Linked DNA regions of Homo sapiens. Changing the gene in region 2 together with the main gene of any one other region gives a genetic interaction. Each region holds a gene or a part of one and is shown on either strand. Other genes may lie near its edges. The genes, in order: ASPM and RRAS.

Evidence for each region.
Region 1: changes in RRAS (region 2) and ASPM together harm fitness more than expected from each alone (negative genetic interaction), as found in Homo sapiens cells (one study listed by BioGRID).

The regions. Positions count from the first base shown.
Region 1 is NC_000001.11:197,139,883-197,143,801, reverse strand, and holds part of ASPM (abnormal spindle-like microcephaly-associated protein), read left to right. Parts: coding exon 1-1,471; intron 1,472-3,919. UniProt on the Homo sapiens protein: Involved in mitotic spindle regulation and coordination of mitotic processes.
Region 2 is NC_000019.10:49,638,397-49,642,315, forward strand, and holds the start of RRAS (ras-related protein R-Ras), read right to left. Parts: upstream 1,748-3,919; 5' UTR 1,703-1,747; coding exon 1,550-1,702; intron 1-1,549. Other genes in the region: SCAF1 (splicing factor, arginine/serine-rich 19), read left to right, coding at 2,127-2,129. UniProt on the Homo sapiens protein: GTP-binding protein with GTPase activity, likely involved in the regulation of MAPK signaling pathway and thereby controlling multiple cellular processes. Regulates the organization of the actin cytoskeleton.

The DNA.
Region 1 (3,919 bases), on a different chromosome or scaffold from region 2:
TGGGATACCATTAAAAAGAAGAAAATTTCAGCCTCTACAAGTCACAACAGAAGGGTTTCAAATATTCAGAATGTTAATAAAACATTTAGTGTTTCCCAAAAAGTTGACAGAGTTAGGAGCCCACTACAAGCTTGTGAAAACTTGGCTATGAATGAAGGCGGTCCCCCAACAGAAAACAATTCTTTAATACTTGAAGAAAATAAAATACCCATATCACCTATTAGCCCTGCTTTCAATGAATGCCATGGTGCAACTTGCTTGCCACTCTCTGTACGTCGATCTACTACCTACTCATCTCTTCATGCATCAGAAAATAGGGAACTATTAAATGTACACAGTGCCAACGTTTCAAAAGTTTCTTTTAATGAGAAAGCTGTAACTGAAACTTCCTTTAATTCCGTAAATGTTAATGGCCAAAGAGGAGAGAATAGTAAACTTAGTCTTACCCCCAACTGTTCTTCAACTTTGAACATTACACAAAGCCAAATACATTTTCTAAGTCCAGATTCTTTTGTAAATAATAGTCATGGAGCTAATAATGAACTAGAATTAGTAACATGTCTTTCATCAGATATGTTTATGAAAGATAATTCACAGCCTGTGCATTTGGAATCAACAATTGCACATGAAATTTATCAGAAAATTTTAAGTCCAGATTCTTTCATAAAAGATAATTATGGACTAAATCAGGATCTAGAATCAGAGTCAGTTAATCCTATTTTATCCCCTAATCAATTTTTAAAAGATAACATGGCATATATGTGTACATCTCAGCAAACATGTAAAGTACCATTATCAAATGAAAATTCTCAAGTCCCACAGTCTCCTGAAGATTGGAGAAAAAGTGAAGTTTCGCCACGTATTCCTGAATGTCAGGGTTCAAAATCTCCCAAAGCTATTTTTGAAGAACTAGTAGAAATGAAGTCAAATTACTACAGTTTTATAAAACAAAATAATCCTAAATTTTCTGCAGTTCAGGATATTTCTAGTCATAGCCACAATAAACAACCTAAGAGACGTCCAATACTTTCTGCCACTGTTACTAAAAGGAAGGCCACCTGTACCAGAGAAAACCAAACTGAGATTAATAAACCAAAAGCAAAAAGATGTCTCAACAGTGCAGTGGGTGAACATGAAAAAGTAATAAATAATCAAAAGGAAAAAGAAGATTTTCATTCTTATCTTCCAATTATAGATCCAATATTAAGTAAATCTAAGAGTTATAAAAACGAGGTAACACCCTCTTCGACAACAGCTTCAGTTGCTCGGAAAAGAAAGAGCGATGGAAGCATGGAAGATGCAAATGTGAGAGTTGCAATTACAGAACATACAGAAGTGCGAGAAATCAAAAGAATCCATTTTTCTCCCTCAGAGCCTAAAACATCAGCTGTTAAGAAAACAAAAAATGTGACAACACCCATCTCAAAACGTATTAGCAACAGAGAGAAATTAAACCTGAAGAAGAAAACTGGTGAGTCTTGTTTATAAAATCTACTGAAGTATACCTGTAAAGGGGATACTTCCTTTTGGTTTAGTAAATCTGCTATTGATAAGCTTGTATTATAGTTTTTACTTATTTGCTGGGTACATTTCCTTAGCAAATGTGAATACAGCTTATGTGACATCTTGTATCTGTCTGATTTTTCTTTGCTTTTGCTGTTTCTTGTAGATATGTTCTGATCAGATAACAAATTCTTTGATAGTAAGGAACATACCTATTTTAATCTCCTACAAGATGTACAATAAAAGATGAATTGAATGAATGGATAAGTGAATAAATGAACAAATAAACCACTGAAAGGTCGACACTCACACCTACTGTTTGTTTGAGGCAGCCAGCTGGTTGAGCCTCTAGTCTAGAATCAGAATTGTACATATTGGGTATCTGATTTATGAGCCTATGTGAGAGGCAAGTAAGTCACCAAGAGTGGCTCTTTCTACCTCTTGACAAATCTAAGGGAACAGAGAAGGCAATTTTTCTAGATATATTTATTTGACTGATAAGGTACCTACTATGTGATGTGCATTTTTCTAGGCACTGTGTACACAGGGAGGAAAGGGATAATTCCTGTCCTCAAGTTGCGTTCAGTCCTGTGATTATGCTATGCTTAGGAAATTAAGGAAGCACAGAAGCAGAGGGTTTGTGTGTAAATTGCAAGGAAGTATGAGATGGTTCCAAGAAAGACTTCCTAAAGAAGAAAATGGTTGCAGGGAGAGGGACTAATTTCTGTAAGGTTTAAGAATGAGGAATTTCTCCTTAGAAATTTACTTTTTAAATGTTCAATTCATAGAACCTTACAATCTAATAAGTATTATGTTGCAATTTAGTCATGTTCCTTATTTTCACAATTGATATAGGTTTGAGATTACTTTAAAACAAGGGTAAGCAAACTGTTCCTCTACTGGTCCAGATAGTAAACATTTTAGGCTTTGCAGGCCATATAGATTTGCACTGCAATTACTCAACTCTGCTGCACTTGTGGGAAAACAGCCATAGACAATGTGCAAATCAAGGAGTATGGCTGTGTTTCAGTAAAATTTTATTCATAAACACCGAAATTTGAATTTTATGTAAGTTTTGTGTTTTATGAAATATTATTATTTTCATTTTTTTTTTAACTCTTTACAAATGTAAAAGCTATATTTAGCTCTTGGAACATACAAAAACAGTAGGGAGGGTTTTGCATGGGGAATGGATGTAGTTTGCTGACCCCTGCTCTTATTGTCTCTTTGCTTATATTTAGTAGCAGTATATTTTGTTGTGAAACCTGTTTTTGAAAGAGTGAACTGCTATTCCAATAGGTTATTTGCTACTGCAATTTGTATTGCATTTTCTTTGATAGCCACCTGGCATTATATCAACCATCTTGGTTACATATTTGGGAATCAGCCTGTTATTCTCTATCACTTTTCTAATAAGTTGGTATTAAGGGTTGTTTCTTCCACTATTAAAATAACTCTCCTCTGATTTGTCTCCATTGACTCTGTTTTAATTTGTCTCACCATATCCACCTTGGGTCATTGTAATAACTGCTTTGTAATTTTCTGTTTCTAATCTTGACCCTGTTCATTCCATTGTCCATACTGTTTTCTTAAATATAAATGAGGGTTTTTACTTCCTTGATTAAAATTCTTCACTAGCATAGAAGGTGCTTCAAAGTGATTAATAGTGGAGGTTCTGTAACTATACTGCCTTTGTTCAAATCTTTGCTACTTACTAGCTTATGTGACCTTAGACCATGTGGCTTAATTGCTCAAAGCCTCAGTATCCTAATTATATACATTGTGGTAATAATAGTACACTTCTCATAAATTTGTTCTCATAACTGTGTGAGAAAAAGATTATGATAGTGCCTGGCACAAAGTATTTAAGTATTAGCTGCCACTATTATTTTGAATATTATTGAACTCCTCCCTACCTCTTCTAGCCTCTTGTATGTCATTTCCTACGTGTATTCTTTGCTTCATCCTTATTGCAGTTCTGGCAACAGGCCACATTCCTCATGCCTAATTTTAATTTCATAAGTTAACTCAAGTAGATTCCCATCTGGGAAGGCTCTTCTACCATTTTTAAACTTCTTTTTTTACCAGACTGAGAACTACTTCAGGGCTGAGACCATATTTTTCAATTCTGCATATTCTCAGCACCTCGTAGAGAGTCTGGAATATACAGACACAATAAGTTTTGGTTGAATCTAGACTTTAGCCTCTGTAAACACAAAATAAATTGTGGTTTATGGTCTGTGACTTCTGGATGTTGGTTTGATAAACCACTGAATTCATAGCATTAGTGCGTGGAGTACAGTGGTTATTAAGTGTTTGCTAAATGAATATGATTGTGAAGAACCCAAACTTTAACTTTCAAATCACTGACCTATTTAGGGAATTTGTATTTTAATGCTCTTAGTTTTGTTTTCTA
Region 2 (3,919 bases):
CATGTCAGGCCAAGACACTTTTCTAGGATTTCTTTGAAGCTGGGAGGACCTCCCTCAGGAATGGGGAGGAGGTTTCCTGGGCTGGGGTGGAATTTCAGGAAAGGGGGTGATGTGGAGGCTAGGGGTCTGAAGGCTGCATCTGTCGGTTAGAGGGGTGCTTGGTGAGGGGCTTGTCCTGGAGGGAGGCTGTAAGGATCAAGCCCTGGGAGGGATTGTGGCTCTGGGGGTAGTTAGGGGCGTGACCTCAGAGCACAGCGTGAGAAGCTCAGGGCTGAGAACTGGGAGCCAGCCCGGAGGTGGCTCAGGGGTTTTGGGAGGTTATAGTATATACAGTCTTAGAAACATTGAGTTCATTTATGGGGTCAGAGAAACTCCCAAGGAATAGATCTTTCTGGGGGTGCCAAGAATCTGGGGGCTTCTTCCATGGAGATGATTTGAGAGCTATTCAGGGTTTCTGAGAGGGGCTCAGGGAGTTGCAGCGGAGAAAGCATGGGATGGAGGAGGGGCTGGTTTTCCTTGGGGGTGGGGTGGGAGAGTGGAGGTTTGGGCCTCCGGGAATGGGGGATTGTCAGGACTTGGGGTCTTGGAGATTTCTGGAATGGCCAAGGGGCAGGATGTCTTTTTAAATCTCGGGTCGGAGAGCAGGACTCTCTTAGGACTGGGTAGTCCCAGAAGAGTCTCAGGGCCAGGGTCTGGGTAGAATTTCTAGATTCTGGGGGCAGTCATGGAAGGGGCTAAGAATCAAACGTGGGGCCGGGCACGGTGGCTCATGCCTGTAATCCCAGCACTTTGGGAGTCCAAGGCAGGCCGATCACGAGGTCAGGAGTTCGAGACCAGTCCAATATGGTGAAACCCCGTCTCTACTAAAAAATACAAAAATTAGCCAGGCATGGTGGCACTCGCCTGTAGTCTCAGCTACTTGGGAGGCTGAGGCAGGAGAATTGCTTGAATCCAGGAGGCAGAGGTTGCAGTGAGCCAACATCGCACCACTGCACTCCACCGCACTCCAGCCTGGGTGACAGAGTGAGTGAGACTCTGTCTCAAAAAAAAAAAAAAAGAAAAAAAAGAATCGAACGTGGTGGAATCTCAAAGGTGCTGGGCACTGGCATTCTCCCAGGAAGGCTCTCAATGGCTTAGAGGGGAAGTTGGGGACTGGGATTTGGGGGAGATAGGGCTCAGGGTGGTGGAAGGTGGCACCAAGGGCGTGGTGGGGGTCCTGGGAGTGCTTAGGGTCCGAATGGGGTGAGTATTTTGTATTTAGCATGCTCCCAGGAGGTGCTCAAAGCCAGGTCAGCAGGTAAGCGGGGTCTTAGGCACTGGGAGAGGGAATAGTGGGTCTCGGGATGCGAGTGCAGAAGGAAGGGTCCCCCGTGCAGGGGATGGAGGCTCTCCAAGAGTTTAGGTTACAATCTGTGGGGATCTTTTAAGATTAGAGGGCCTTATAGGAGGGTCTCAGTGATGGGTCAAGGGGGAAAAGGGGTCTCGGGGATCCCCCCAAGGGCTCAGTTCTGGGTCCCGGGGGACACCCTCCCGGGTGAGGGCCCACTACCTGGATGAACTGGATGGTCAGCGCGCTCTTGCCCACGCCGCCGCCGCCCACGACCACCAGCTTGTGTGTCTCGCTGGGCGGGGGGTCCCCGGGCCCAGGTCCCCCGCCCCGGGGCCGCCCCCGCCCTGTCCCGGACGCCGCCCCGCTGCTCATGTCGCCACCGCTGCTGCTGCCTTCGCTACCGCCTGCGGGGGAGCCGGGCGGGACCCGGGGGGGCGGGCTACGCTAATGAGGCTACTGCATAATCATGAGCTCTGGCAAGGAGGGCTCGCGTCTCCGGACACTTAAGGAGGGGGACGGGCCAAAGAAAGGGAGGAGCTATGTTAATAAGGGAAAGGGAACGGCGTTCGCTGCGAAGGGGAATTCCGAATGAGGCGGGGCTATGCTAATGAGAGACCTGTGCTTTGCCCTGAGCGGCGCCACGCGCTCTCAGCGGGAGGGCGGTCTGTGGGCGTGGCTATGCTAATAAGAATTTATTCTTTCAGCAGACGGGGCGGAAAGTTCCTCAGGGGAGGGGCTATGCAAATAAGGACCCCTGTGACACTGCTGCTTGGGGCATCGTCTCCGAGGCCTTAGTATGGTAGGCGGAGCTCGTCGACTCGCGCGCGCGGCCGTATATAGGGCGCTCCGAGGAAGCAGCAGGTTTTGAGGAGTAGCTCCACCTCCCTCCTGGGATCCTAGCCAAGCTTTCGACCCCGGCGTCTGGGTTAGAAGCTAGAGTCTCCGCCCGCTAAGGGACCCAGGCTTCCGGTTCCCGCTGTCCCAGCCAAGCGGAAGACAGACTGGGAGGAGAGTGGGGCCCTAGAGGGGGACAGCAGGGTAACGGGGCAGGGAGGGGCCGTGAGATCACTGCATTCCTAATCCATGAGCCAGCTCGCCCAAGTAGGGATGCCTGGGTCATGAAGAGCCTGGGGCCAGGATTTCTGGGTCTTGAAGGAGAAGGAAGCAGAGGGCCCAGACTCCTGGGTCCTTAGGAGAAAATGGGGCTGGAGATGTGGACTCCTGGGTCCTGGGGAGGAGGGTGTCAGGGAGGAAGGTAGACAGGTTCCTTCGTACTAGGTTCGGTAAAGGAGGGAGCCGGGGGCCTGGACTCTTAGGTCCAGGAATTGGAGAGGCTGGGGACCCAGGATTCTGGATCCGAGCGAGGGCACTGGCTTGGGGGGACCCGAATTCGTATGTGAGAGCTTGAGACCAGGACTAGTCTGGGAGACCGACTCTTGGATCCGAGGAAGGAAGAATCAGACTCCTGAGTCGGAGGGAGGAGGGAAATAGGAGTCTGGACACTGCTCTGAGTGAGAGGATTCGGAATTCAGACTTCTCTGTACTGAACGAGGCGGCTATGGGGTCGGGCTTCTAGGTTCTAAGTTTATTTTTATTTGTTTATTTTTGAGACGGAGTTTCCGTCTTGTAGCCCATGCTGGAGTGCAATGGCGCGATCTTGGCCCACTGCAACCTCCGCTTCCCGGGTTCAAGCGATTCTCCTACCTCAGCCTCCCGAGTAGCTGGGATTACAGGCGTTAGCCACCACGCCAGGCTAATTTTTGTATTTTTAGTAGAGACTGGGTTTCACCATGTTGGTCAGGCTGGTCTTGAACTCCTGATATCAGATGATCCGCCTGCTTCGGCCTCCCAAAGTGCTGGGATTACAGACGTGAGCCACCGCGCCTGGCCTATTTTTATTTTTTTAGAGGCGGGGTCTCCCTATATTGCCTAGGCTGGCTTCTAACTTCTAGGCTCAAGCCATCCTTCCGCCTCAGTCTCCCGAGTGGGACTACGGTGTGCGCCACTGCATCCCGTCTGGTTCTAAATTTAGGGGGGCCTAGAGGATCTGGATTCTGAGAGCCCCAGAATGTGGGCAGCACAACATCCAGCAAGTCGTGCTCACTCCGCCGGACTACAATTCCCTTGCGTCTGTTCTGCCTGGCGCCTCTTACGTCACCTCCTGTTCCGCCACCCTTTCCGCGCGCGCGCAGGGCACTGTGGGGCGTCATCGCGGGCTACCGCGGCCCCGCCCACTTCACCTCTCACCCCATTAGCTGTCCCCGCGCGACAGAGGCGGTGCGCGGACTACGCCTCCCGGCGTGCATCGCGCGGACCCCGCCCCATGTGTCCCATTGGCTTCTGGGAAACCGAGTGCGGTTGCCTTCCCGCCGGCCTTCACGTCGCCGTGCTCGGTACTTGAAATCCCGGCAAGCTCGGCGGCGCTTTAGCTCCGCCTCTCTCCTCCTTTGCTCACGAACCCCGCCCCAGCCCGCCCCGCCCCGCGCCGGGGCCGGAGCCGCAGCCCGAGCGGCGGGGTAAGATGGCGGCGGCAGTCCGGGCCGCGGGGCTCGGGCCTATTGGGGTGGGCGGGGCGGAGTTGGGTCGCTA